Linked DNA regions of Homo sapiens: regions 1 and 3 are each reported to be linked to region 2. The links are microRNA targets in miRTarBase. Many come from high-throughput screens and were not tested one by one. Region 2 holds a microRNA gene; each other region holds the end of a gene's coding sequence.

The links. The annotated mature microRNA hsa-miR-30e-5p reads UGUAAACAUCCUUGACUGGAAG and lies in region 2 at 7,328-7,349, shown strand. An mRNA with a match to its seed (bases 2 to 7 or 8) in the 3' UTR can be bound and repressed. Matches are read on the target gene's strand: a 7mer-m8 pairs with bases 2 to 8, a 7mer-A1 pairs with bases 2 to 7 and ends in A, and an 8mer does both.
Region 1: the mRNA of SOBP is a reported target of hsa-miR-30e-5p. The part of its 3' UTR that is shown has no 7-base or 8-base seed match.
Region 3: miRTarBase lists TBC1D10B as a target of hsa-miR-30e-5p. Seed matches in the 3' UTR shown: 8mer at 3,049-3,056.

The regions. Positions count from the first base shown.
Region 1 is chr6:107,632,948-107,642,893 of GRCh38, reverse strand. SOBP (sine oculis binding protein homolog) reads right to left here. Exons shown (of 7, transcript NM_018013.4): 6 at 7,425-9,380. The coding sequence ends at 7,428. Among named protein-coding and RNA genes, the nearest start is that of SOBP, 150 kb to the right of the region's middle.
Region 2 is chr1:40,747,044-40,756,989 of GRCh38, forward strand. It overlaps MIR30E (microRNA 30e), which reads left to right and starts at 7,312; the gene lies at 7,312-7,403. It overlaps NFYC (nuclear transcription factor Y subunit gamma), which reads left to right. Exons shown (of 10, transcript NM_014223.5): 3 at 491-562; 4 at 2,530-2,643; 5 at 6,108-6,203.
Region 3 is chr16:30,350,284-30,360,229 of GRCh38, reverse strand. TBC1D10B (TBC1 domain family member 10B) reads left to right here. Exons shown (of 9, transcript NM_015527.4): 5 at 389-503; 6 at 627-692; 7 at 869-1,058; 8 at 1,413-1,567; 9 at 1,657-3,128. The coding sequence ends at 2,286. CD2BP2 (CD2 cytoplasmic tail binding protein 2) reads left to right here and starts at 4,922. Exons shown (of 7, transcript NM_006110.3): 1 at 4,922-5,018; 2 at 5,523-5,626; 3 at 5,908-6,046; 4 at 6,172-6,329; 5 at 6,430-6,862; 6 at 6,943-7,049; 7 at 7,135-9,457. The coding sequence starts at 5,549. The coding sequence ends at 7,245. It overlaps CD2BP2-DT (CD2BP2 divergent transcript), which reads right to left and starts at 4,796. Exons shown (of 2, transcript NR_184233.1): 1 at 4,610-4,796; 2 at 1-3,937. RefSeq lists enhancers at 4,751-4,810, 4,891-4,950, 4,005-4,956, 4,688-4,982, 4,673-5,872 and 1 more.

The DNA of each region.
Region 1 (9,946 bases), not on the chromosome of region 2:
GGAAAGATCTACTTTTTAGTTGTATTTTTTTGGATGTTAGGTCAATGTTCCATATCAAATGAATTCATGAAGCGTTTCTCCCTTTTGTTCTTTAAATACTATCAGTCACATTCTTACTTCCCTTTTTACCCAAAACAAAACACAGCTTACTATATCAAAGACAGACAACAAACCAGAGGTTCAGAGGGGAAAATGATGAGACAACTAGTGCTGGTGCAGCCAAATATCTGGATGGGAATGAGGCTGGGAGCACTGGAAGCTTTGATTTGCCCCAGCCCTGACCCCTTGGCTACCTGGAAAGCCAGGTCTGCTCTGCCCCCATCTCTCTACTCAGGGCTGTACATCTGGACCACACAGTACAATTGCACAAGCATTTTTTGCTTATGATCATTAATTCAGTCCAAGGAGTGGCAGAGTTAGGTAACTTGACTGATTTCCAATTTTAAACTATGTAGTACACTTGGGACTATTTTAAAGCATTAGAGAATAATTCCAAGTTTTTGTTATTGTCATTTTCTTTTGCTCCAGTCATTTTTCACTAGAATCTTTTCGATGACCCTTGAAATAAGTTTTGTGCATGTGTGTGTACTTCCCCTCCCTGTTGATGGTCTCATGTTCCCAATCCTGACCCCACCCTATTTTTTTTTTCTGTGCTGTGGAAATCCACAAATCTGGAGAAGAACTCTCTGCAGTTAGTATTCAGAGCTGGTGTCTGAAATGGCATTTACCCCATTTCCTTGAGAATGGGACCCTGTTAAACGATGCCAGTGCTAAATTGTTTATTTTCTAAAGCTAATTTCTTTCTTTCTCTGAATGAATTTCGTTTATGCCCTTTGAGGCCCTAAGAAAAAGTTTACACATGCAGAATGCATTGCCTTAACATCCATCCACATAGAAAGTGCTATGCACTTAAAACGGCAACGGAAGGATACAAAATAAGTTGTGCAGGACACGGTAAGAGAAAACAGCATGGCCACCCCCGTCCCTTTGGCACGATCTCTTAGACAGGAAAGTCTGGAAAAGGCGGGGCGTTCGGGTGAGGGTAAGTGTTCCACAACATGAGGTAAGTGTTCCACGGTGCAGCGTATTTTGGTCCTCAGACATCTCTGCCCCTCTGCAGCACTTGTCTGCATGAAGGTAGGTGTAAATGATTGAACATGGTGCACAGGCAGCAGCTTAGGCTGGCAAGGGAGTGACTCATTGGAAACCAGTCAGGGAACTGATTTCCAGTGCCCTCCTGGGCAACGGCTGGTTAATAGCTGGCCGAACGCGTCTCTTTCCAAGTGCAGTCTCTCCAAGTAAAGAGGCATACTGGGGAGCTAGGGAGCATTGGCAGCGCTCCCAGACACTGCCACATCAATGCCCTGGTGTTCACCGACCTGTCCACCTCTCTGACTCTGGCCATTCTGCTTTCTTGGCCTCAGTGGCAGAGTAGAAGATCTTTCCACAGAAGAACAGTGTCTCCCTGTATCGTACAAATTTTGAAGGTCCAAGTGCTGGGGAAGTATCTAGCTTATTTCTTTTCTTGCTTCTCTTTTCTTCTTTCATCACAGGCCCTTGTGGGAAATGGTAACTTGAAGAAAAGTCTGTAACCTTTTGCATTGTGTCACTAAGGCAATCTTATTGAGGCAAGTGCTACATGATGTAGCTCCAACTTTGATTCTGCAATATTAGGCCCACAGCAGAAATTGCCAAACAATATATTCTAAGTTTTAAGAGAAACTTTCCATTAATTCAGCTTCCTCAGAGAAACAAGAAAAATTTCAACTCAGATATTGCTCCATAATAAGGTAAGATAATCCTTCAGAGATATAGAGCATACTTTTTCTGGAGCCAAAATCTATGGACGTCTTCTCCCATGAAAATGCCTCTGTGCATAGGCACATAAAACTTTCCATGAAATTTCAGGGGGAGTTGCTGAAGGCCATCCAGGGACGAGTCCAGGGGGCCAGGAGACCAGCTTTAGGGAGCTGCCATATGGATCTGGAGACAGAGCCAGGACCAGTGCTGCACTAGCATGACCCTGAGTGGGTGCCTCCTCAAAGTCTCTGCCCTAAGCCCTTCCTTTGCTTCACTCTAGTCCCAGTCCTGCTGAAGATGGAAGGTTATGGGTACATCTGAAAGTAATAAATATCCAGTCACAGATGTCATTTCATATTCCATCATAACCTGATTGACATCATATATAAAAGTTGGATGCTTGTACATTAAAACCTTCCCTCCAAGTCCCTGGTCATAAGGGTTAACATGGTCCCAGCAGCATTGAATTGGGACATATCTCAGGCCAATCTTGACACCATTCATTCCAGAAAACTTTCCTCTACAAGTCTGAAATGATCACAGGAAGCACACTCCCAGGTCCTCCCACTCACATGTGTCCATGACACAGACCTGGTGTCTTCTTTCTGGCTCTCTGAAGTACCTCTACCTAGAACTATATGTGCCAACTGCATCCCAACAGACAAGCTAACCCTTAACTTAGGGACTGTCACCAATTAATATTCCCAATAGTCAAGTACTGGACCATTAGATAGCACAAGTCTGACACAGGATCCGAGCACATCCCATTCATACTGATTTCCTTTTGTCACTCTCAGTTTTCCTTCTTTTCCTTGTTTTAAAAGTAGGCACCTATAGTATTGTTTCGAATGTATGGACTGACTTCCCAACCTCCTCCCAGACAGCCTCCTCTCTTGAACTTCTCAGTTTGAGAAACTAAATTGGCAAAAAACTTTTTGGGACCTCCACCCTTTTGGCTTCCCCAATGAAGTGAACTCCTTGCCTTGGAACAGTTGTTTCTAGGACTGTGGCTCCATGACCAGACTAATAATTAAACTCCAAAAAGCCAAACTACAGGTGCCTCCTCCAGCTTTCCCTGAGAAAATAAGATGTCAAGTCCCCCCTGCTGAGCCTGGAGTAGTATCATGGAATTGGGACCAGGAAAAAGGGTCTTATATTTTCTTTCTGGTTTTTGAAACTTAGAAATTTGGGAGCCACAAAGGTGGAAAAGTGAGATGAAAGGGTTACTCCTTGTACACATTTTTTCCATTGATTATTTTACTTAAAGAGTCTATGTCATTTCCCTGGAAAACTGAGGAGGGGGAATATTTTCTTTTGAATATCTTCAAACATTTGCAAATGGTTACTCTGAACTCCCCAATGTACCATAAACAAGTGTAAACTGTAGAAATTCAGAAAATGTACAAATACAAACAGCTATCCCTCAAGCTCCTAGGCAAAGACAAAGAAGGGAGTATTCCATTTATAAATGGAATTCTTTGTGGATAGAATAGTTCGGAAAATGTTTATACATTGTTTTCCTTATTATTCGGGGGGATATTTTTTCCAGCTTACAGAAGCTGCAGAACTGGCATTTGGAGTCTTAAAAGTTGAAGATCAAAGGAAGTTTACAACCTTTTAAAATCTTCAACTAAACTTAATTAGTTCTGCATCTGGGGAAAATAGTTGTCCACTGAAATCATTTGTAATCATATCAACACACAAGAATGCATAAAGGCAGGTAACCAGGAACAGAATAATTTCCAAATGGGGAAAAAAAAACCCTATAATTTACAAAGAACTAGCAAATAAGACTTCCTTGAAGACAACTGTAGCTGCCTCGGTTGCTAATTTCTAGATACTTTGGTCTGCTTTTGATCTATTTTAAATGATTTTTTTAAACAGTACTACAGACTGGGAGCGGCGGCTCACACCTGTAATCCCAACACTTTGGGAGACCAAGGTGGGCAGATCACTTGAGGTCAGGAGTTTGAGACCAGCCTAGCTAACATGGTGAAACCCCATCTCTACCAAAAATATAAAAAATAGCTGGGCATGGTGGCATGTGCCTGTAATCCCAGCTGCTCAGGAGGCTGAGGCAGGAGAATTGCTTCAACCCCGGAGGCAGAGGTTGCAGTGAGCCCAGATTGTGCCACTGCACTCCAGCCTGGGCAACAGACCAAGACTGTCTCAAAAAAATAATAAATAAAATAAAATAAAAATAATAAAATAGTACTACAGTATGAAAAAGGCAGACATAGTGAGAAGAATGAAGAGCTGACTGAAGTTATTGACAGATTATCCTATATAATATATAATGAATATATATGAGAAATAATATATAATGAATCACCAACAAGCACACGGAGAAATCATTCACCTGCACCTCACCCACCACATCTCAGCCTGAGTTTTGCTTTTGGTTTGTAACACTTTCCACTTTGGCTTTTAACTTGTCACCAGTGTTCAGCATCAGGGCACAAAAGCCATACGGTCCTTTATTTAGTGGATACACTTCCAATTTCCCCAACCATATGAACGGTCTGGGTTTCTGAAGGCATAGAAGAAAAACAGCACCACATGTGCACAAAAAAACAGGAAGGGGCCTGGGCACGTTGGCTCACACCTGTAATCCCAGCACTTTGGGAGGCCGAGGTGGGTGGATCACCTGAGGTCAGGAGTTCGAGACCAGCCTGGCCAACATGGCAAAACCCTGTCTCTACTAAAAATACAAAGATTAGCTGGGCATCGTGGCGCGTGGCTATAACCCCAGCTACTCAGGAGGCTGAGGCAGGAGAATCACTTGAACCCAGGCAGCCGAGGTTGCAGTGAGCCAAGGTCGCGCCACTGCGCTCCAGCCTGGGTGACAGATTGAGACTCTGTCTCAAAAAATAATAAATAACTAAATAAATAAATAAAACAAACCAGGAAGGGCCAGAGAATGTGAGTAAATTGTGGCAGGTTGAGACTGTGCTGTGAGGTGACACGGAACTTCTGAGGGCAAGAGGAAATGTGATTTAGTGGAGGAGAGGTGGTTTTTCCCCCATCTTAAATCACTTGCCTTGTCACCCTTTCGTAGCTGACAAAGCCTGAGTATTTCTGTATTTCTGATTTTAAAGAAAAGCTGTAATTTCTTGGGGGACCCATCATTGAAAGAACTCTTCAATCTCAAGAGGTAGTGGGCAATTTCATCACCACATCTTCTGAAATTGGCTGGAGCCAGGTTGATATTTTTAATGATTCTGGTCCACATACAAGACTGATTCTTTATTCAGAAACATATATCATCCAAATAGCCATCGTGTATTTTATGTTTTTATGTTATTTTGGTCCCAAGCTACTCATATGTTAGTGTCACTATTCTTGACCTGGTCACTTCTCACTCCAATGATGGTATAATAGTAAAATCTCTCACCCTCCCATTCTTCTTCTTTTCAGCCTCACCTGAATGAGTGATATTAGAATGTGTTTAAAGTGACAATTCCCAATGCTTTCTGACTTTCTGAAGGCCGTCACTTTTTTTGTCACACATCTTCCCATTACTCACAGCTTTGTCAACCAGATTAAATTACTCTCGTGAAGAAATCAGGGGCATTTTCAATTGAGGTGACTGTGAGAAGGCTGAGGCCATCTGTCTTCAGGCAGCAGAACTTGTAGATGTAAAATCAAGAAGGAATGGTGAACTCATTTTTAGTATTCTTCCTCTACTGGCAAAGCCATCAGAGGAAAAGGAAACCTCGAACGATGGTGGCTGAGAAACCTTTCTTCCTCAACTGACAAGTCTCCTTGCTCTGGTCTGTGCTTCCCAAGCAATCTCCTGGCTATGCTAGGGGCCCAACTTAGAGACCAGGGACTGGACACACCACAGCAAGTGCTGTGCTCCACGTTTGTATTTCCCACTGTGGAGTAATGGGTTGGTAATTTAGGCTTGTTGGTGCTGCAGAAACAAGAATTCAACTGTCTGAACACTTAGAGAAGTTAGGAGGTAGACTCAGTTTTTGTTTGTTTTTTAAGAAACTTTCCCCTATGACAACTGAGGGTTGTTTTACCCACTGAGGTGGGTAAAACAATTTTAGTATGTAGGGTAATAAAGAAACTAATTAGCCTATTCTCCTACAGTGGTTTTTTAAAAAATGCAGCTCTGGAGTCAGACAGCCTGGATTTGCATCTCAACTCTGCTAATTTGGTAAAATCTTGGGCAAGTTACTTTAATGTCTCTGTCTTGGTTTCCTCATCAATAAAATGAAGACGATAATTGTCCTATGGACCCAGATCCAAATAAATACTACCGAAAAACACTTAGAAGACAGCCTGCATACAAATGTGAGCAATTATTCATCTTACGAGATCCACTCTCCTGGCCCCCGCTTCCTTCCTCCTGGAGTTTGCACTCCCACCAGATGGGGGCACGCCATCATTTACCTTTGTATCTCCCTAGTCCCTGGAAGGAGCAGTGTACAAGTTAGGTGCTCAATAAATGCTCATCTCTCCTCTTCCTCTCCATAAGAAGTTGATAAACTCAACTGAATTTTGGCCTGTTTGATGCCCGCTTGGATAGACGGGAGAGCTTGGGCTGTGTCCAACAGGCCTGAGTTGAATACGGCTTCCCCACGTACCAGCTCTGCTTCGGGCACAGTATCTAAGCTTCATCTGCCTCCTTGGTGAGATACAGATGATGCCTATTCCACCAGAATTGGCAGGAGGAGCAAATGAGGCCACCTCTGCCTATGACAGGCACACATGTTAGTTCCCCTTCCCAATATTGAAAAATTTAACTCACTCTTGGCGGCTCACTTGGCATTAGGCAGGAGTCTGTCTATGAGGTCAGAGATGTGCAGTGTCACTCACTTTAGCAATGCCACCCTCTTCCCTATCGAAGCCTCCCATTACCTGCAAAGGTGAGCAACTCATCAGCTAAGCCGCTGGGCCCCAAAAGGGGGAGAGAGCAAAGCTGGTCAGTGACGCTTGAGGCCTACCCTGGGGGATGCTGCTTGGTGCCAAACTGCAGGAAGGAGACCCCATGAACAGGAAAGACACCCTGCCAGGCAAATAGGACTCAGTGGCCTGGGTTCAGTTGACATATGCATGTAAGAGTTAGGTTTCATTCTCACTTTACAAATGGAATCCCGTCCTTATCAAGAAAATTTGGTGACATTCTGCCAATGAGGCAACCAGCTCTATTTAGTAGGTGGCCCAGCTCATGGGTTCACTGGACATTTCACCACTGCCCTGCAACCTCATGATCACACATTTAGGTGTCCCAAGTTAATCTCTTCTCCCTCCCCCCATCCTCCTCTTCTCCAATAGGGTGATTTACGGAGATGAGCATGATAATAAAGTGTAATTGGAGAGACAATATTTCATGACAGGTTGGAGACTGAGCTCTCCCCTCAAGTAAGTGACCCGGGGCTTGGCACTCACATGCTGTGGCTCAGTTTCCTCGGCTGTAAAATGGGAATGATGCTACTGAACAACTCAGCATCAGAGCTGCTGGCTCAGAATGTTGATAGCGTGACCACACCGTGTGCAATATAAAACACACACGGTAAAATCATGACTATAATTACAACTCTCCCCTCTGCCTTGTCAGAAGTAAGGAGAGGTGCACTGGCTGGTGTGGAGGAGCGCCCGGCGGACATACAAACCTTTTACTTATTCTGATTTCTAATTCGGAGGCACCTCCTTTTGAGCGGCGGCTCCAGGTCCTCAGGCCCGGCGCTGAGCATGGGCGAGGAGATGATGCACGGTGCCATGGCAGCCTTCTCCGCGGGTTTTGGCACAGGCTGGATCACGCAGCCGGTCTTGGGCAGCATCCGCAGAGCATAGGCATGGTCCTCGTCCGCGGGGTTATTAAGGTTCGGGTCTGACTTGTCGCCCCCCGCCAGGGCCTCCTCGCCCATCAGCTTTTTGGCCGCCTCCCCGTCCAGGTGGCAGTTGGAAGCACAGTTATTCTCCTTGACCGACTCTAGCTCGCTCACCGCCGGTTCCTCAGGCGACAGCAGCTTCTTGGGGGGCGCGGGCGGCGGCGGCGGCGGCGGCTGCTCGGGAGGCGGCTCCGCGCTCTTAGCGCCCTCGGCGGCGGCGCCGCGCGTGCCGTTCACGATGACGTTGCAGGCCGCGGCCGCCTCGGGGCCCGCCGGGGCGCCCGGGCCTGGGTCGCCGGCGGCGGGCGGGCTGCAGTGGCCGTCCCTGCAGCCGCCGCAGGTCCTGCGCTCCGCGGCGCTCGGCTCGCGCTCCGCCTTGACGTGCGCGTGCAGCGCGCGGTGGATCACGTTGTGCAGCCGGGCTCGGTGGCCCACGGTCAGGTCGATGACGCCGTCCTGCGGGCCCTGCAGCACGCCTGGGAAGCCGAGCTGGCCGCCCGCGCCCGGGGGGCCCGGGGGGCTGCCGGCGCGCCGCGTCAGGTCCACCACCTCGCTCCGGCCATGCTCGGCGGGCGTGGGCGCCAGGCTCAGGGCCTGGCCCGAGCAGCCGGGGGGCGAGTCCGCGGACTTGGACGAGCCCTGCTTGGAGTCCCGGGGGGACAGGGAGTGTCCGCTTGGCTTGCCGCCCGCCGCCGCGGAGTCGCCAGGGGCGTTCGGAATGAAGTTCTCCCCGTTGCTGGAGAACCCGTTGGGGGGCTTGGAGTCGCTGACGTGAGGGATAGGGATGGGGATGGGGATGGGCACCGGTAGGGGCACGATCACGGGGTACGGCACGAGCAGGGTCGGGGGCGGCACCAGCGGGGCAAGCGACGGCAGCCCGAAATTCATCATCTGGGGCACCGGCATCGGGCCATTTGGCATCATGCTCACTGGCGGGAAGGGAAGACTCGGCAGCGGGGCGCCCGGAGGCGGCGGGGGCAGCAGGCCTGGGGGGTTCCCGGGCATGGTGGGGGTGCTCGGGGGGTGGATGTGGGGCGATAGCATGGGCCGGTGCATGGGGCTGGAAGTGGGGCCCAGGTTTCTGGGGCCACCGGGCGGGGGCCCGATGCCGGGAAGCATGGGGTTGGACAGGGGGCTGTTGGGGTTGGAGGCATGGTGCGGAGGCCCGCGGATGAAGGGCGGGCGGATCTGCTGCATGATCTGCTGCTCCATGAAGATGGGCAGCGGCACCGGGCCGCGGTTGGTCATCACCATGGGAGGGCTCCGAGGCGGGACGCCAAGGGGAGGCCCGATGCTAGCAGGTGGCTGGACGGAGACAGGAGGGATATTTGGAGTCTCGCTGATGGGGATGGACTTGGGCACTGGCGTGGGGATTTTAGTGACAGAGCAGTTGGCAGTGTCAGATGGAGAGACGGTGGTGGACGCCGACGGGCCAGGGCCCTGGCTTTGGCCAGCTGTAGCCACCGGGGAGGGGGCCTTCCTCCGAGCATCTGTTAGCGGGATATTCCAAGAGTCTGGAGTGAGCAGCTGCACCCCGGTGCCTTCTGCTTTATTTTCCATGGGAGGGTGTAATGTGCTGCACAGCCCAGCTGGAAGATTGGCCTGGGTCTCTTTGTAGAAAATGTCCATTTTGTATTGATTGAGACATTTTGCACTGCAGAACTGAAGCCTTCTTTCCCCGTCCCCAAAATCCAGGTATTCTTTTGTGTGTCTTATGTGCTTACACCAGTCACATACCTACAACACAGTAATAAAAAACCACAACAGGTAAGACAAGCAATTTACCTGGGTAGATGACGTTTCGTGTTTCACATAAAGGTTCTTTTAAACTTTACCAGCACTTCTCAAACAGGCAGAACTGTTTCCTTCTAAAAGGTAAAATTCTGAAATGTTTGTAAAATGATGGGTTGGCTTTATAAATATGAGCTCTTCAGAATACCAATTATCACAACCTCCTATTCTTTTTTCTTAAATTGTGTTGTCCCCTTTAAGCATGACTTAAAGATGGTTCTGAGAAAAGGGAATATATATACCTGTCCAATGTACCTGCCCACACATTTTCACTTGTCAGAGAGGCTCATTGTAAATGCAAACCTAAAGAGTTTTGGAGGGAAAGGTTCTCCAGAAAGTTCAATGGGCTTGAAATATTACCCCTTACAATTCTCCTCATGCGAAGTCACTTTACACTGTTGACTATGTTTGATAATGCAGTTGGAAAGAGTGTACTGTGTTAACCAATAACACAAAGCGCTGAACATCATTATGTCTGGCTTCCAAGGAGAAACTTGGAATTAATCATGAAG
Region 2 (9,946 bases):
AGTTGTAAAGAACTGTGGATCACTGTGGTCAAGTGCCCCGGCGTTGCTGTTAGTTTGGTCACTGAATGGAAGAAAGAACTGGCAGTTTAGAGGAATACCCCTGAGACAGAAATCTCATTTTAATCTGCATATTGCAGACTGGTAAACTTACTTGGAAAAAAAAAGAAGGCGCTCATAATGTCCCTCTATGTTGTGCTGACGAAAAAAAAAAAAAAACAGATATTGCTTGGGGCTGTGTTTCATGAGAGCACTGTTAGAGGCCATCCTAAGCTTTTTCTAAAGCCCATTAATTCTTTGAAGACCTGCATATGTTAAGTAAAGAAGAATTTTGCTCTGGAGCTTGTATTTTCTTCATTTCATCTGTACCTTCTCTCCCGACATACGCTTCCTGAAGAGAGGGACCAAGCCAGAGTGTTTCCTACTGCCTGTCATGCTTTGCCACACTGTTGATTGTCCCCACCATTTATGCATCTCTTGTTGTTCATTTCAGAAAGACTTCCGAGTGCAGGAACTCCCACTGGCTCGTATTAAGAAGATTATGAAACTGGATGAAGATGTGAAGGTGAATTCACATTCATTTTTATTATTTCTTATTGAAGCTAAGTGATGGGTAGGTTATTGCTCATTTCTCTAGAGCTCAAAGTTTAATTAAACAAGAACACACAAAAATTACTGTCTGTTGCTTTGTTATTTGGTTCCTGTGCAAAATTGTTAAGTGAGCCAAAATTGAGCAGTTTTGGTTACTATATGGATCATCCTGAAAATTTTTTAGATGTTGAAAAAATAGTTGATGTTGGGTTTTTTTTTTTTTTTTGAGAGTTTTACTCTGTTATCCAGGCCGCAGTGCAGTGGTGCGAGCTTAGCTCACTGCAACCTCTGCCTCCCAGGTTCAGGCAATTCCCATGCCTCAGACTCCCGAGTAGCTAGGATTACAGGCGCCCGCCACCACACCTAGCTAATTTTTGTATTTTTTGTAGAGACAGGGTTTCACCATGTTGGCCAGGCTGGTCTTGAACTCCCGACCTCAGGTGATATGCCTGCCTCTGCCTCCCAAAGTGCTGGGATTACAGGTGTGAGCCACCGCATCTGGCCTTTTCTTTCTTTTTGAGACAGGGTCTCACTCTGTCACCCAGGCTGGAGGGCAATGGCATAATCACGGCTCACTGTAGCCTTCACCTCCCAGGCTTAAGTGATCTTCCCACCTCAGCCTCCCAAGTAGCTGGGACTACAGGCACGTGCCATCATGTCTGGCTTAATTTTTAATGTTTTTTTGGAGTGGGGGACAGGATCTCACCATGTTGTCCAGGCTAGTCACGAACTCCTGGGCTCAAGCAGTCCTCCAGCCTCAGCCTCCCAAAGTGCTAGGATTAGGCATGAGCCACCATGCCCAGCTGGTATCTCACAGTTCTGTTCACAGTGTAGTATATACATGTATCATCAAATCAACAGGACAGTGCCATCATCTTAGCGTCTTACATAGTTTGTTGATCTGAACTCTTAAGAAATTTTTGATAATGATATTCTACCTGTTCTAACCTTTTGATCTATGAGTTTCTTTTACATGAATAATACTTGTGAGAGGGTTTGCGTGGGCTTGGCCATTTCTGTATTCCTAGGAGTCCATCTCCATTACAGATCTCAGAGAAAGAGGAACTCTGTCTCTTTACCACTCAAAATTAATAGTCTTTTGTATTTTCACAGAAAGCTAACAATTGATAGTAATTTTCCCTTTTATTAGCTCCTTTCTTCCTCACAGTAGCCCTGTGAGATTTGATATAATAAGAATTATCAGTTCCATTTTACAGACAATGGAAATAGACACAAAGAGGTTAAGTGACTCACCCAGAGTGATAGGACCAAGATCCCATTTCCCATCTGCTGCTTCTTTAACTCCAGAGCTCTTTCTGTGGCTGTATCCTGCACAGACTACCTCACCAAAGGTTTAGAACCTTGTTTGACCAAGAGCTTCAACTTTGAAATCAGACACATCAAGAAAGTTTATATGGCTTGAGCATTTCCTATATGCCAAGCCCTGGGCTGGGTACATATATTATCTCATTTGATTGCCACAATAAAACTGAAAGGTTATCCTCTTTTTCAGTACATGAAAAAGCCCAAAAGGATGGGAAGCCTGCAATTTTATCCAAATCCATTGGCTTTCAAGCTCATTCTCCTTCCTCATATTGTTTCTCCTTGGATTAGAACCTAAACCCTGCCACTTACTGGCTCTATGGCTGTGGGCAAGTCACTTCATCTCTCTTGACCCCTAGTTTCTTTGAAAGGCTATTATAAGAGTAAGAAAACACCTTGCACAAGGTTTGGCGCATGGTATGTGCTAGATAAGTATTCTTTCTCCCTGTTACCTGCTTTGTTCCCACTCATGGATTTATTTTACCTTGGAATCTCTTGAGTATACCACCTCATTTTTTGACCCTTGCCCCATAGTCCCATGCCAGGCAATGAGGCAAGAGACAGACTGGTTTGCATGACTTGCTGGTGATTGACAGGGAGGGCCTGTGTCTGTTACAGATGATCAGTGCAGAAGCGCCTGTACTCTTTGCCAAGGCAGCCCAGATTTTTATCACAGAGTTGACTCTTCGAGCCTGGATTCACACAGAAGATAACAAGCGCCGGACTCTACAGGTATTATTGCAGACTTAGATTAGGAAAACTGGGGTAAGCAGCAGCCTTTGCCTGTTTTCCTGCGTGGTGTTGGAGAAAGATTGTTCTCCTTTAGGACCAAAGATTGTTCTCCTTTAGGACCAAAGATTGTTCTCCTTTAGGCCTCTATCAAGCTGACGTGTCATTGGCATCACCACTGTTGGGAGGCAGACATACCTTCTAGCCATGGTGATTGTGTTTCTCCACCAAAAATCTTAATCAATTCTCTCCTGGTTTTCACAGCTTAGTGACTGAACTCTTTTCCCTTGGTGAGCCCTCACTATAAACAGAGGCTCAAGTGATAAGAGTATTTACCTGTTTCCAAACGTAATCAACTTCTGGTTGGGAGCCTTGAGAGATTCCAGGAAGTATCATCAGTCTCACTAGCTTCATTAGGCTTTTTGTTCCTTGTCAGCCTTCCTGGGAGTCCTTTTCTTTTTCTTCTTCTTTTTTTTTTAATTTTAATTTTTAACCTAGCGAATTCACATTCATACTGTATGCAGAGCCCTTGGTCATTGACTCTAGAAACCCTCACCCTATAGCCAAGCCCTGGCTCTTAGAGGAAAGATTTCCCAGATACAAGAAGAAGAGTGTAACAAGTATAAAACAGTGGTGGCAGTATTTTAACAATGAAGCCAAGAAAGTAAATTATTTTCTCTTCTTGTTTCCCTTTACCTACAAAGTAGAAAATGCATGTGTTTATTCATTTATTCTAAAAATACTTACTGAACACCCACAATGTGCCGGGCACTTTTCTAGGCTCTGGGGATTAACGATACACACAACAGACAAAAATCCTTATCTGTGGGAAGCCTGCATTCTAGTACAGCTTGTCAATGCGTCATAAAGTTAGGATTTGTGTACATTACTATATGAAAGTTTTAAAGCAAAAAAAGCAAAAAATACTGAGCTCCAATAAATGATATGCATGTTGAAGTCACAAAATTTATGTTGCCTTGAAGTTAGTCTGTGGATCCAGAGAGATCCAGTTAAAGCTCCCTTCAAGATCAATTCAGATTAGAAAATAAAATAGGCAAAACACTTGGACAGACCTTCAGAAAAAAAGATAAACAAATGCCCAATAAACCCATGAGAAGATATGCAACATCATTAGTCATCAGGGAAATAAAAAACTGCAGTGAGATACTGTTTTACACCCACTAGAATACCTAAAATAAAAAAGACTGACAATACCACAGTTGGTGAGGAAGTGGAGTGTCTGAAACTCATATATTGCTGGTCAGAATCTAAAGTGGTCAGTCAGTTTGAAAAAATATTAGACATTTTCTGATAAACATATCCCCCTACTCTGTAACCCAGCCATTTCATTCCTAGGTTTGTACCCAAAAGAACTGTAGCCATTCTTATATAAAAATGCTCTTAACAACCTTGTTTATACTACCTCAAAACTGGAAACAACTCAAGTGTCCATCAATATAGGAATATATAAACAAATTCTGAGGTATTGATGAAATGGATTCCTCCTCAGCAATAAAAAGAAACAAACCATTGCTCCATACAACATGGATAAATCTCAAAGATACTATGTTAACAAAAGGAACCAGAGGGAAAAAATTACATAGTGCATGATACAATGCATTATTACCACCTATAGTGATAGAAATCAGAGTTGTGGTTGCCCAGATTTAGGGGAGTGTGGGGAAGGATATTGACTGGAAAGGGCTAGAAGGAACTTTCTATATTCCTTTTTTATTTTTTGAGATAGGGTCTCACTCTGTGGCCTAGGCTGGAGTGCAGTGGCGCAATCACAGCTCATTGCAGCCTCGACCTCCTGGGCTCAAGTGATCCTCCCACCTCAGCCTCCCAAGTAGCTGAGACTACAGGTGCATGCCACCATATCTGGCTTAAAATTTTTGTTGTTGTTGTTGTAGAGATGAGGCCTTACTATGTTGCCCAGAGCTGGTCTTGAAACTCCTGGCTCAAGCGATCCTCCTGCCTCAGGGAATTTAAAAAGCAAATAAAAATTTTAGGAAGACCAACTTAAGTATATCTATGTTTCCAAAATACTCTAGAATATTTTATTATATGCTGGAGATGTTTATTATTTTTCTTTTTCCCCTTTTATTCCATCAATAAATGAGCCATTTAGATAGATTGAGTAGATGACATCAAAAAATGTGACACTATATTGTAGTCATCTTAAATGAGTTCTGGCAATCTTAAGATGGGCCCTGCTTCAGTTGGGAGGGTTTATCGTCAAGCTCGTGGTTGGCAAGAAGGGCGGACTAGAGTTTTGCATTTCAGAGGCTTGGGGCCATCACAGATACAAGGGAAAGAAAAAAAAAATTTCCATCCTCTCCTGTTTTGTCCGATGAGTCACCTTTTAAGGTGTGGTATATAGAGTTTGCTAAGGATTTCTGTTAGTGTGTTAACATTTTCCCCAGCATTTTATTATGAAAAATTTCAAACATAAGCAAAGTTTACAGTGAATACCTGTATACTTACAACCTAGATTCTACCATAAACATTTTACTATGCTTATTTTATTCTCATATCTGTTTATCCCTCTATCCATCCTTCAAGTAATCTGTTTTTAAGTGCATTGTAAAGTTTACTTTGCCCAAATACTTTAACATGCATATCATTCACTAGCGTTCAGTGTTTTTTCATATTGTTTTTCCTTTTGCTTTAAATCTTTAGTAAAGTACACAAATCTTAACTATACATAATATGTTGGGTTTTAGTAAAAATCTTTTAATTTTATTATTCAAAGAAAGGAAGTATCACACTTGGAGAGAAACCCCCATTAGAGCAGGTCTTGGTTTCAGTATCATTAGCCTTCTGACTCCTGTGTTCTCTTACCTCTCTTGCTGCTGTTCATAGCACAAACTATGAATATCAGAATTCTCACAAGCTATGTTTTTTATTTGGGAATTCAGAACTGCAATGATAAACCCATGGTTTAAGTATTGCAATTTAGAATTCCCAAATAAAAATCATAGCTTGTGAGAACTTAGTGTATATAGATCCAGTGACTTGAAAATGTTGCAAAAAGTTATTGAATTAGGATTTTACCTAATTCAATACTTGTGAACCAAAGGGAAAATATTATTTAGGGCCTTAAAAAGATTATAAACCTAACTTTGCTAACCCACAGAATGACCAGAAACCTGCTAATTGAGATTACTAGGTTTGTAATTTGAAAATCGCGGGGAGAGGATCAAGCAGGAGTAGCAGTGGTTGGAGGCTCAGATACCCCATTTTACAGTGTGAGTTACATGTATCTCTTTCTTTTTTGTTGATGGTTGCCCACCAGGTCTGATCATTTAAAGTATATGAGTTTGGCTGTGCTTATTTCAGCTGTAGACTTGCCCGTAGGTGTTTAGTTTGGCTTAAAAGTCGTCTTACCTTACTTGGAGGGTATAAAGCCAAGTGAACTAGTTTCTCCCCAGGCTAATTTTTCACACCGCTCTTCTTTGTTACAGAGAAATGATATCGCCATGGCAATTACAAAATTTGATCAGTTTGATTTTCTCATCGATATTGTTCCAAGAGATGAACTGAAACCTCCAAAGCGTCAGGTGAGCTGTGAAGGGATTGCAGTTGCTGCTGACTGAAGAGCGCTTTGTATACTGGTGTCAGATACGCTCCTTCTCTCTCAGCACAAGTCATTTGCTATTCCTTTTGCTTCTCGTTTCTAGACCAGATTCATTCTTAACATCTCCTTCTGTTACTCATTTCTGGATACTTTTAACTCAGTGCCTCCGAAGTGGTATTTCAGTGAAAATAGACAAAATGAAAATGAAAGACTTTAGTTACAAATGGTAAAGTTAAGCTCATTTCAAGTTATCTTAGGAAGTCTATCAGAGCTCTTCATCTGGGATAGGAGAATATTCCCAGAAAGTTATAGATTTTAGATTTTTAAGAAACAGCTTCTCTATGTGCACAGTGGCATTTGGAGTGAATGGACTATGTTTTCTCTTCCTCTATATTGTGGTTCATTATATCTTTATATAGTACCCTGACTGCACACTAGAATCACCTGTTGGGGTTTTAAAAATATCAGCGCCCAGGCTCTAACCCACATCAGCTGAATCAGAATCTCATGATGGAGCCCAGGCATCAGTACCTTTTAAAACTCCCTGGATGCTTTTAATGTGCAGTCAGATTTGAGAACCACCACTTGAGCTGTTTTGCAAGCAATCACAAGAAAGAATATGAACGTCTGCCTTCCCGTCTCTTCTGCCTGCCCCTCTCCAAAGGTCACACTAGTTGTTTTTTCAGCACCTTGGGTGCATATAGCTCTTAATTGTGATTGTAATAGACCTCTGTCCTTTAGAGCTCATTGTTTTAAGCATGCAGATTGCATGATTCACTAGGTGCCACTTGGGAAATTGTGGCAGAATCTCACAGGAGCAAAGCTGTGCCTTGTTCTGCTTGCTTTGTTATATAAAACTTTATTTTTAATGAATTATTTCATAGTATATTATCCTTAGAAGCAGTCATTCAGTGACAGCCATTCTCCCCATCCCAGCCTGTATTAATAACCAGTCAGAGAAAGTCTAGGAGAAGTGGGCATCCTAATGAACATTTGTAATTCTGACCCTGCATGAGGGCCTTTGGATTAGCAAGCCCTCTGTCACCTCCTTACTAGAGTAGGGTGTGCCTCACTGCGTCTCCGTTCTTTCTGGGCAGTCTTTGCTACTGTAAACATCCTTGACTGGAAGCTGTAAGGTGTTCAGAGGAGCTTTCAGTCGGATGTTTACAGCGGCAGGCTGCCACGGTCGTCCCCAGCTACGCACCGGCTTTGAAACATTGCAGGTTTGTGCCCACAGGCTCAATTCCTCCTCTTGGGGGTCCTTCCCTCCTCTCTCAGAAGTCACAACAAGAACTCAGGCCATTTATCTTCCTTCAGAACAAAGAGTATCATACACCTGCTTTCCTTGTTGAAATTGTTTTCTCCTTTTGTCTATCAGAAGCCCCCTTTAAAACAAGATTGTGAGCTCTGTGATGAAATCAGGCCTTGCTCACTCTCATTGTGCTAACTCCTTGTTTTCTGTGGGCTGCCTGCTGAATACACTGGCTGGAGAGAAGGGTCACATCCTGTCAGTTCCTCCAAATTCCTCAGTGCTTCTGGGTCTCTCGGGGTGTCATACAGCTCCTTATTCCATCTTAGCCAGACTCAAAATGCTATGATCCATCTGATTTTAAAGTGTGTCTAGCTGAAACAGCTTCTTGTTGCTTGGATTTAGTTCTTTGTAGGTGTTCGAGGCATTGATTGGCATCGTATTCGGGACAGCTGCTGCCTGGCCTTTGAAAGGTTGAGATTGCTGAAAGCTGGCCTGAAATTCTAAGATAGCATTTTTAATCCTCTGTAGACATGAAGTTTTCCCAGGCTTCAAATTGGCTGGCACCTCCTAAAGTCCTTTAAAACGCCTACTCTCCAAAACCCACCCTTTCTGAAGGAGGCAGCAGTTCACTCTTGCTACTAAAGCGAATGTACTTTTTTCCAGTCAGGGCTGGTTGCACAACACTGTAGAGATGGCCCTAGGATGTGATGCTGCTCTTCTCTGGCACTGTTCGTCAGTCTCAGCTTCTGGAAAGATTCCAAGAGCAAGCCCTGTAGTTGGGGAGGCCACTGCTAAAGTTGAGCAAGTGCCCCATTCTGGATTGATCCAGTCATTAAAGCATTGTTCTGCCACTTGGGGCAACCTCCCACTGCTGGGAAAAGGAACTAGTCAGAAATACTGAATTGTGAGTCCAAGGCCCTGACTTCTCAAAGATACTTGAGAGTTTCGCTTGTTCTTCAGAGAAGCAAGTAAAGATTATTTGAAGGTAGGAGGTAGTTGAGGCCTGACTTCTGCCCCACTAAAGCTATTGAGTTGAAAGTTCCTGCCCATTGAAATGTCATTATCTTTTCACCCATTTCTTTAAACCAAGCATAATCATTTCCTTGCTGGCTTGACCTCCATTGGCAGAATGAGTCTTCATAATGCAGAAGAGCCTTAGATATGCCTTCTTCCATTCCAGTGATTTGAGAACAGTTGTGCCTTGTCCTAACAACACAAACCTAGGTGCCTCCACTTGATTCTCAGTGTCCTAGATACTGTCTAGTTCATAAACAGTTTAAGAGGATGTAGTAAGCAGCATAGGAGGAGCTCTTGTCCTGCTCTCACAGCTTTTGGCAAGAGATATTTTGGGTTCTGGAAGGGGTTTTTAAAGGGTTTGCTTTTTGTCTGACAAAAAGATCATATTCAATACTAGATCAGCTGTAGTTGGGGATAACTGGAGACTAAACAATCACAGGTCACGGCTAGAAAATGCAGGTGTCTCCCTGCTGCCTAGCTTCCTACACAGCTGGTTCTGAGGCTCTCATTCCTGTATACCCTCTCATTACCCAAGAGCTTTTCCAAGTTAGGTCTGGATTTCAGTGATTTGTGCTTTTTGTAAAATAATAAGGGAGATCTCAGTGGAACACAAGTACCTTGAACCTACTTCAATAGCTTTGCAAAGAGCAGTTGGCTTCTGTTTCTTGGCTGCAAAAGGTATCAGTATTTTAGCTTTGCCACAGCCAATACCTAGTTTCCAGGCTGACATTTATTTATAATGATGATAAGTTGGGGTTGAAATTGTTGTGGAAATTGAGACCTAGATGAAAATAAAAGGGAATCTCCTTTTCCTTCTGCCTTAGCATAATCATATTGAGGGTTAAAACTATTTGTGTCTGAAGCACAGACTATATCAACCTAAAAAGTCAGTTCATATATTAACTTAGAAACCCAGAATGTTACAGGTATCTCCCTAAGCTGGGTAGATGGCTGTCAAGTAACCATGTCATGCAGAGACCCATGTTTCTCAGGGGTAGATACTGGCAGTCCTAGTTTTAGTATCCTAGCCCCCAGACATCAGGCAAACAAAGGATACTCAGCTCTGTTCCACAGGGGACACTAGCTGCTTCCTCACACTGTGGCCACAGAGTCTTAGAGGTACCAAAAGAGAGTTTAGAGACTACTTTTTTCTATTGGTAACAGCTGTTGGGTTTAAGAGAATTTGTCATATCAGCAAGTTGGATTCAGAGAACTACTTTCCTGCCTCTAACTGTCTGCCTGTCTAAATCCATTCATCATTCATCACGCACTTACTGAGTGCCTACCTGGGAACGCGGGGGATAGCAGAGAGCAAGAGAGAGCTAGGCTTTGCCCTCATGGTGCTTAACATTTTAGTAGAACAGACAGTTAATTTGACATGCAAGTGCAAAAATGTATACTGTGAGGACAGTACTTTGGAAGCACAGTTGAGGGCACCTAACATAGTGTGGGGATGG
Region 3 (9,946 bases), not on the chromosome of region 2:
GAGACCGATAAGGCAGGCCCTGCCCTGGGGAGCTACTGCTTTGGGGTGACAAAGACATTTAGTGCTAGAGGAGGGCTGATGCTGCAGCTGTGGAAAGCTTCCTGGAGAAAATGACCTGGAAGGTTTCTGGGATGTGGCTGAGGAAGGAGGGCGAGGGTGCAGCCTGTGCTGGGATGGCCAGGAGCATGTGGAGTATGTAGCCAAAGGCGGAGCCCCGGGGCCTGGAGTGCTCTGCTGTGGGCTGAGCCTTTAGCTGAAGCTCGCTCAGCAGGACTGGGCAGGTGGATGGAGGAGCCTGGTGATAAACTCTGGGACGAATCTGGAACTGGGTTTGGGGACAGAGCTCTCAGCCCGTGACTGCCCTCACAGTCTTCCCCAACCCCCACAGGCAACAGGACCTGTACCGAATCCTGAAGGCCTACACCATCTACCGGCCTGACGAGGGTTACTGCCAGGCCCAGGCCCCCGTGGCTGCGGTCCTGCTCATGCACATGCCTGCGGAGGTCAGCGCCCTGGTCCTGGGCCGGGAGGGGCAGGGGGGATCTCACCCTACAGTGGTGATGGGGGAGCTCCCTGCTCCCTGCTTCTCAGGCCCCACCCCTCCTCCTTGTTCTTGCTCTTCTCAGCAAGCCTTTTGGTGCCTGGTGCAGATCTGCGACAAGTACCTCCCAGGTTACTACAGTGCAGGGCTGGTGAGTGTCTGGAGGCTGGGTGCATCCGGGGCTGTGGCGTTTCCTCCAGGCTGCAGGCAGGTCCTTGCCTTGCCCCACCCTGGCCTTCCCGGCTTCTGCCCACAGGGCCGGCCAGTTCTCCCCTGATGGGGGCACAGCTGACTTGGCCCTCTTCTCATGGCTTGTCCCACCTGCAGGAGGCCATTCAGCTGGACGGGGAGATCTTTTTTGCACTCCTGCGCCGGGCCTCCCCGCTGGCGCATCGCCACCTGCGGCGGCAGCGCATTGACCCTGTGCTCTACATGACGGAGTGGTTCATGTGCATCTTCGCCCGCACCCTGCCCTGGGCGTCGGTGCTGCGTGTCTGGGACATGTTTTTCTGTGAAGGTACTTCTGTGGCCCTCCAGGCCATGAGGGGCTGGGGTTTCTGTGGTGGCTACCAGGGGTTCTGTCATATTTCTGGTGGTCCATGGACAAAAGGTACTTGTTGGGTGGAGGTTTCACCATAAGCAGCTGGGGGCTGGAGAAACAGGCCTGATTTTAGTTCTGCCACCAACCCAGAGCCTGCTCTCCCTGCCAAGATCCTGAGACTGATAGCAGCTCATGTACTTTCACAGGGCCTCAGTTTCCTCATCTGAGATTGGCAGTAGATGGGGATGGGGGCTGTGAGTCTATCCTGATCAGGACAGGCTGAGATCTTGGGTCTGACCACCCCATGCTCTCTACTCTCCACCCCTGCAGGCGTTAAGATCATCTTCCGGGTGGCCCTGGTCCTGCTGCGCCACACGCTGGGCTCAGTGGAGAAGCTGCGCTCCTGCCAAGGCATGTATGAGACCATGGAGCAGCTGCGTAACCTGCCCCAGCAGTGCATGCAGGAAGACTTCCTGGTGCATGAGGTAGGCCTGTGCCCTCAACGCAGCCCCTGCCTGCCTCAGCCCGCTCCCACCCTCAGCTCCATTCTGGTACGCATTTCCTCTCTGTGCAGGTGACCAATCTGCCGGTGACAGAAGCACTGATTGAGCGGGAGAATGCAGCCCAGCTCAAGAAGTGGCGGGAAACGCGGGGGGAGCTGCAGTATCGGCCCTCACGGCGACTGCATGGGTCCCGGGCCATCCACGAGGAGCGCCGGCGGCAACAGCCACCCCTGGGCCCCTCCTCCAGCCTCCTCAGCCTCCCTGGCCTCAAGAGCCGAGGCTCCCGGGCAGCTGGAGGGGCCCCGTCCCCGCCGCCCCCCGTCCGCAGAGCCAGTGCTGGGCCTGCCCCAGGGCCTGTGGTCACTGCTGAGGGACTGCATCCATCCCTTCCCTCACCCACTGGCAATAGCACCCCCTTGGGTTCCAGCAAGGAGACCCGGAAGCAGGAGAAGGAGCGGCAGAAACAGGAGAAGGAGCGGCAGAAACAGGAGAAGGAGCGGGAGAAGGAGCGGCAGAAGCAGGAGAAAGAGCGAGAGAAGCAGGAAAAGGAGCGAGAGAAGCAGGAGAAGGAGCGGCAGAAGCAGGAGAAGAAGGCTCAAGGCCGGAAGCTTTCGCTGCGTCGAAAGGCAGATGGGCCCCCAGGCCCCCATGATGGTGGGGACAGGCCCTCAGCCGAGGCCCGGCAGGACGCTTACTTCTGACCTCTGCCCTGGGGCTGGACTGCATGGCCCCCCTCTTTCCCTCAGCCAAGAACAGGCCTGGCCCAAGGTGCCACCCCCTAGCACCTTGTCAGGCTGTCCCTTGCTGGGGAAAGTGGCTTGGTTCCCCATCTCCTCGCCAGCTGCTGATCCCTACACGGGCAGGACAGATGGGCAGCTGCAAATGAGTCTGGAGCCTCTCATCTCCCATGAGGCTCAGCTGGGGTCTCTGTCGCTCCTGCCCCAGTTCCCTCTGGGTCCCCTCCTAGGTGCTGTCCTGAATGGCCCGTTGTCATCCCAGGGGTGACTCCTGGTGATGGGAGTCAGCAGTTTCAGATTCTTACACTCCATAGCTCCCCTTACCATGAGGTGGAGCTGGCTTCCTTTTCCCTGTCTTCAGCCCTCCCTGTCTCCCCCACTTCCTGGCCAGGGCTCTCATTCTGGACCTGTGTTGTAATTGTGTACAGAGGATGGCGTTGGCCTGGGGTGGGGGTGCTCGCTTTGTCTTCTGTCCTTTGGTTCTCCTTCCATAATGCTCCTGTACCCAGTTTATTTAAGGGGACATGCACTGGAATAGGAAATGTCCCCCATCTCCCTTCCTGCACCCTGCTGTGCTCCCTCCAAACCCACCTTGCTCTGTGTTCTCAGGCCCCCCTGCTTTTGTCTCACCAGGACCCATACCTTTCACCTTGTTCCCTTCCACCCCTCCAGTTAGTCCCTATCTGGGTAAGGGTCTTCCCTTGAGCTCCAGGGGGTGGAACCCAATGTTTACATTCTCTTCTGTCTCTGCCCCCACCCCATGCAGCGCTTTGAGGAATTGGAAAAGAACCTGCTGTTGTACCTGGGCCTGTTTTCTGCCTTGTTATTTGATGAGGGGGGGATGGGGTAAGGACGAGGGAGGGAGGGACAGAGCCAGGACCTGGGTCTCTGTTGAAGCAGTCTGCTGTCTTGGCAAGTAGGTACCTCTTAGCTTTGGGTCCATCTCTCAGTCACTCATCAGACACTGGTTGAGCTCCTGCTCCATCTTTGCCTGGGATCTGCTGTCTCCATTGTCACTGGCTGCCTGGAGCTCTCTATGTACCACGTGCAGCACCCGGATCTCCTTCCCAAAGTGCTCATGCAACTCCTGGAAGCTGGAGGGGGTACTCACAGTGGCTAGAAAGCCACTGTCCTCTGGGGATGAGATGGGTTCTTGGCCAGTTGCCTGGCACAGCTCCCAGTATTGGGTTTTGGTGGGGGGGGAGGGGGGACAGCAGCCCAGCCAGCCGCCTCCAGCTCGCGCCAGCCAGTGCCCACAGCCAAGTCTCCAGCTCTTCCTGGGTTTCTGCAGCCAGCTTGTAGGCCCGCCCACCTGTGCCCTCCACCCCAGGGGTCAGGATGGTAAAGGCATAGGGTTCTGCAGCCTTAAGGTGTGGTTCCACCTGGCAGTTCTCTAACAGGATGAGGCTCAGGGGTGCATGGTCGGTCTAGTGTTCTAGGTAGAAGAGGAGGTTTCCTCGGAGGATGAACCATCGGCGCTGGTAGCTGAGGTTTCGGGTCCCCTTCTTTAGCAGAATGCCTTCCTGGTCTGGGGCCTGTGTTCTGTAACCATGGAAGAAACTGAGCACGGACTTTCTGTGCAGTTTTCATCGTGATCCAATATGGGAGGAAACCCCTAGGGAGAGAGAAGTGGCCCATCTAGTTGCCTGGGGGAAGAGTAGGGGAACTCTCATGCTGTCCTCGTCTGGCTTCAGCACGTGCTGCCTGCGCACAGTCTTGGCTTAGGGGGATGCAGGCTCCGAGTGTCAAGAGCTAGGGGTCCCAGCACAGGGGCTGATCCCCGCTACCTCCCCAATTCCCCCTTCTGCTTGGGCCACATTCCGCTACCTGGGCAGGAGTTGCTAGGCCCTGTTTGCTCAGGGGGGCTTCATGCTGCAGAGAGGCACTGTTGCCCTTTTCCAGGCCTACCTGAGAGCAGGGCACAAGGGGCTTCTGGCCTGAGTACTGGCGCCAATGCCACCTCTCCAGTGATGGCTCTCCCACCTCAGAAACCAGGAACTCGCCCAGGGTATGGGCGTGGGACAAATTATTTCCCCTGGGTCCTAAAGGGAGGTGTGTTCAGAAAGTGCCCGGAGAGCCGTCCAGGGGCCCCAGGCTGGCCATCGGGAGAGTCAGGCTTCCCCTCGGAGAGGCAAGGCTGCACCTCTCAGGCTAGGAGGGCTGACCACTGGACCATAGGAATGGGAAGGCAGGATTTCTAACGAGACGGTAGGGGCGCTGAGCCCTTAGCCCTGGGGGAAGGGTGACTTGAACCCAGGACAGGAAAACGGAGCAGCAACCCACTGACCCTGCTCGGACTTTGCCCCTCCATCCTGACCCTGGGCGGCCCTTTAAGCAGATGCGCTCCAGTTTTTCTCCAGAGCCTCTACTGCTTGAATGACGGACTCGAAGCTACTTCCGGCCATTTCTCACGCCCAGTCAGAGTCCAGGAATTCTTAGGTTCCCTCTTCTCACCATTGTCCTCCCACGTGACTGACGTCACTTCTGGCGGGAGAGAGGGTGGAGGCGTCTTCGCTCGCTTATCGCATACTTCCGCCCGCTCTTCCAGTTAGTTCCCTAACCCGAGTGAAGCCACTTCCGGGCTTCCCGGGCGCCTTCCGCAGTCCTCTTCCGGGTGATGGCGGCCGGGTGCCCCGGATGTAGCCCTGGCGCAAGCATCTCTTCTTTTTTCCACCTCGCCTTCCGCGGATTCCCAGGTGAGTGCGCGAGGGTGGGACCGCCCGAATCCCCGTGGCCCTCTAAGTTGTACACAGCCCGGGACAGTTGGGGCTCACCACACGGAATTGGGAGTTCGGAGCAGGGAGGAACGGGGTGGCGAGAGCGCCAGGTCCTGGGTCTGCCGGGGCCCGGCGAGCTCCGAGAGAGCCAGGGTAGAGAGCGGGGGTCAGCCCGTGGAGCCGGTGGCGCGCAGACTGCGGGGGCTGGAGTTGGGGGCGGTCACGTGGTGAAGCCTGTCTCCTTTCAGCCAGGGTCGGGGGATCCAGAGGGTCCGCTCCTCCGTCCCCGCCCCGTTTAACTCGCGGATGCTAGACCCAAGTCCTGGAGGCCTCCTGGCTGCCAGCTTCCTTTCGGCCCCTGCTTTTGTGCTCCCTCCGCTCCCAAACTGTACCTGTCACAGACCAGGAAAAATGTTTGCTGTGCTGCGTCTGTTGGCGAGTCCCCTCCTCACCCGGTTCCCTTCCTCTGCATCCTTTCCTCAGCTTGAGAAACACCTCTTTGCCCCGTCATGCCAAAGAGGAAAGTGACCTTCCAAGGCGTGGGAGATGAGGAGGATGAGGATGAAATCATTGTCCCCAAGAAGAAGGTGAGGGGGCCAGACTGCTTTGTGTGGGGGAAAGAGGAGCTAGAAGCCTGAAGAGGAAGAAAGCTGGCGGGAGAGGGGCGGGGCGGGCAGGCAGAGAAAAGCCTAGTTTTTTCAGGTTCTCTGAGGAATGGGTTGGGAGCGTCTTTAGTGTGGCTCCTGAAATATTTGGGGAAGTAGTCGAGATCCTGAAATATTTGGGGAATATTTGGGTCCAGATCCGGAAGTATTTGGGGAGGTAGCCAGTAACCTGCATTTCTCAACTTTCTGGCTCCTGCTCACAGCTGGTGGACCCTGTGGCTGGGTCAGGGGGTCCTGGGAGCCGCTTTAAAGGCAAACACTCTTTGGATAGCGATGAGGAGGAGGATGATGATGATGGGGGGTCCAGCAAATATGACATCTTGGCCTCAGAGGATGTAGAAGGTAAGCTGTACCCAAGAATACACTCTGCTGGAAAAACAAGTAGGGGCCTCTGGTGGTGTGGAGCGAGGGAGGCTCCGGTCTCTTTTTTCCATGCCTGGAAAAGGGCACCTGTGTCTTTGGTGCAGGTCAGGAGGCAGCCACACTCCCCAGCGAGGGGGGTGTTCGGATCACACCCTTTAACCTGCAGGAGGAGATGGAGGAAGGCCACTTTGATGCCGATGGCAACTACTTCCTGAACCGGGATGCTCAGATCCGAGACAGCTGGCTGGACAACATTGACTGGGTGCGGCCCAGGGGCTGGCGTGGCTGGGGCCTGGGAGTGGCAGATGCTGGGCCTGCTCCCGTGGCAGTTGGTGGGAAATCACTCCATCTTCCCATTACAGGTGAAGATCCGGGAGCGGCCACCTGGCCAGCGCCAGGCCTCAGACTCGGAGGAGGAGGACAGCTTGGGCCAGACCTCAATGAGTGCCCAAGCCCTCTTGGAGGGACTTTTGGAGCTCCTATTGCCTAGAGAGACAGTGGCTGGGGCACTGAGGCGTCTGGGGGCCCGAGGAGGAGGCAAAGGGAGAAAGGGGCCTGGGCAACCCAGTTCCCCTCAGCGCCTGGACCGGCTCTCCGGGTTGGCCGACCAGATGGTGGCCCGGGGCAACCTTGGTGTGTACCAGGAAACAAGGGAACGGTTGGCTATGCGTCTGAAGGGTTTGGGGTGTCAGACCCTAGGACCCCACAATCCCACACCCCCACCCTCCCTGGACATGTTCGCTGAGGAGTTGGCGGAGGAGGAACTGGAGACCCCAACCCCTACCCAGAGAGGAGGTGAGCTTGGAGGACAGAGGAGGGGGCAGTGGGTAGGAAGTGAGACACTGGAGGCCAAATGGCTTTGCCTGTTATTTTAGAAGCAGAGTCGCGGGGAGATGGTCTGGTGGATGTGATGTGGGAATATAAGTGGGAGAACACGGGGGATGCCGAGCTGTATGGGCCCTTCACCAGCGCCCAGATGCAGGTGAGCTGCTTTCTCCCTCCTCCTGCCTTGTCCCTGCTTCCCCCACTCCTGTCAGTTGTTCCCCAGCTCTGCCCTCTCCTTGCAGACCTGGGTGAGTGAAGGCTACTTCCCGGACGGTGTTTATTGCCGGAAGCTGGACCCCCCTGGTGGTCAGTTCTACAACTCCAAACGCATTGACTTTGACCTCTACACCTGAGCCTGCTGGGGGCCCAGTTTGGTGGGCCCTTCTTTCCTGGACTTTGTGGAGGAGGCACCAAGTGTCTCAGGCAGCGAGGAAATTGGAGGCCATTTTTCAGTCAATTTCCCTTTCCCAATAAAAGCCTTTAGTTGTGTACTGGGGCCTTGGCTGTGCTGATGGCCAGAAGCCAGGGGCCTTCTCCACAGTCCCTTTGGACTTGTCTTGGTCCCTGAGTACTCCCATGAAGATCCTTCTTGGAGGTGCCTGTCAGGTATCCTGTGGCCTCCCTGCCTGGACTCTGCTTGCCGTGTAAACACCCCCAACTGCGCTGCTCTGTGCTCCTCTCCCAGGTTTCTTGTTCGATTCCTCTTAGGTCTTTGGCTTTCAGGACCTCAGATTCTTTATCCTTGTAGCCACCAGAGGACAGAGCCCCAGAAGTGGATGTTTTAGGCCCAGAAGGACCAGGGCATCGAGAAGACATTGGGACCCTGTTGGGGGTGAGCATGGAACCCTCTTACTCTCGCTTCACCCTCTCAAGCTCCTTAGATGCTGGGCAGAAGTGGGATGAGTGGCCCAAGACCGAGATCCCTAAGGTTCTGAGAGCCAGTGTCTTCCCTAATCTGGCTTTCCTCTATCCTTGCCGTCGTTCCCACAGCCCTTCAGTGAAGTGCAAACTCAGTGGCCAAGTGTGGGCCAAGTGTGCATTGTACTGGCACAGAGAGGGGCAGTGACTCACTGGAGATCACAGGAATCAAAGGGCTGGCCCAGACCCAGTGGGCTCCTTTCCCAGACCTTTCTTGGCACAAAGCCTTTGCTGCCTGGCCTTGGAGGCCCTGCGGCCTACATTCTCTGGACCCCACTATGTGCCTGGCACAGGGCTAGTGCCTTGAGGAAACTGAGGTAGCTGGGTTGGTCCCCTTCCAGGAATTCAGAGTCTGGTGGCAGGGGCATGGGAAATAGACAGATGTAATTCTATAGCCTGGGCCTGGCACCCTCCACCTCCACGCCCCACCAGCATTGCCTTACGCCTCCCTTGCCCCACGTTAGATGGTTTCTTCCGGTTTTGCACTCTGGCTGCCCCTTGGAGTCTCCTGGGGAGCTGTAATATCTCTTTGGAGATTCAGATTGAGCTGGTCTAGGTTGTGGCCCAGGCATTGGGCATTTTGGAAGCCCCCAGGTGTTTTCAGCTTGCAGCCAGGCCGAGAGAGAGCCCCTGAGTCAGATCCCCATGGTTTAGGCACACCTAGCGGGAGGGGTGGCTCCTGGACCCCACCGTGGTTGGAGAGCTGAGCATGTGTGTGGCTTTAGTGGGGTCTGTTAGTTATGGGGGTCTGGGCACTGGAGCTGCAGGACACTTGGGATCCCAGGTCAGAAAGGGCCAGATGAGCAACTAGGAAAGACTTGGGGGCCAGGGCGGAGTGGGGTCACCTGACACTCTTGTGAGGCCCCTTCTAGTGCCTGCTCACACCGGAATTTCATTCACTCCAAGAAGCCATCAGGGGTAAGATACCTTCCTTTAAACGTCACTAAGAAAGAAGAGGCCTGCCGGTGACACAGTAAGATGCCATTGATCTAAAGATGCGTCTTGATTTCAGAAAGGTCCGGAAGTGGAAAGCAGGTTTCAGGGCTGCTGAGGTACAGGGTTCTCCTGTAGGCCCCAGGGATGGTCTCAGGGGTGCTGAGTGCGTGCGTGGTAAATGGATGGAGCCCAGGGGCGCCTCCTGCCAGTGTCCTCCAGGCACTCAAACCTAGCCCTTCTGAAGCCGACCTCACGTGACCTCACAGCCCCTCCTGAAGGCGCCTCACTGATGACGGTGGGTGGAATAACAGCCCCCAGAGATGTCCAGGTTTGGAACCCCAGGACGTGGGAAAGTGTTACCTTGCGTGGCAAAAGGGACCCGGCGCCTGTGCTTCAGTTCAGGATTTCGTGGTGGGGAGATGACCGTGGATGGTTGAGGTGGGCCCTGAGTAATCATGGGGGCCCTTATAAGGGAAGGGGAGTCACGAGGGTCTGCGCATGAAGCAAGGAAGCTTCTGGCTGTGAAGATGGCAAGAAGGCCTGGGGCCAGGCGATGAGGTGGCCCCTGGAGGAGCTGGAAAAGGCATTGGATTCTGCCCCAGAGCCTCCGTGGAGAAACAAAGCCGCACTGACAAGACTTCAGCCTGGTGAAAACCATTTTGGACTCCTGACCTCTAGAACTGTAAGATAATAAATTGGTGTGGTTTTCAACCTCTCAGTTTGTGGTAATTTGTTAACAGCCCCAATAGGAAACAACTACTCATGCATCCAGGGGACACCTCATGAACCACCCGATCTCACTAAGTTCTCCCTTCCTGTGACCACATTGCTATTTCAGGTCCCTGTCAGCACTTATAAATGTGGCTGCCTCTTGCTAGGGTGGCCTTTATAGCACATCTGAAACAGCACTCCTTGGCTTTTTGTTTGTTTTGTTTTTAGAGACAGGGTGTTACTGTCACCCAGTAGGGGTGACAACATCTCTCTACACTGGAGTACAGTGGTGTGATCATAGCTCAATGCAGCCTTGAACTCCTGGGTTCAAGTGATCCTCCCACCTCAGCCTCCTAAGTAGCTGGGTCTACAGGAGTGCACCACTTCACCTGGCTAATTAAGAAACTTTTTTTTGTAGTGGCAGGGTCTTGCTATGTTGCCCAGGCTAGTCTCAAACTCCTGCACTCAACCGATCCTCCCAGATCAGCC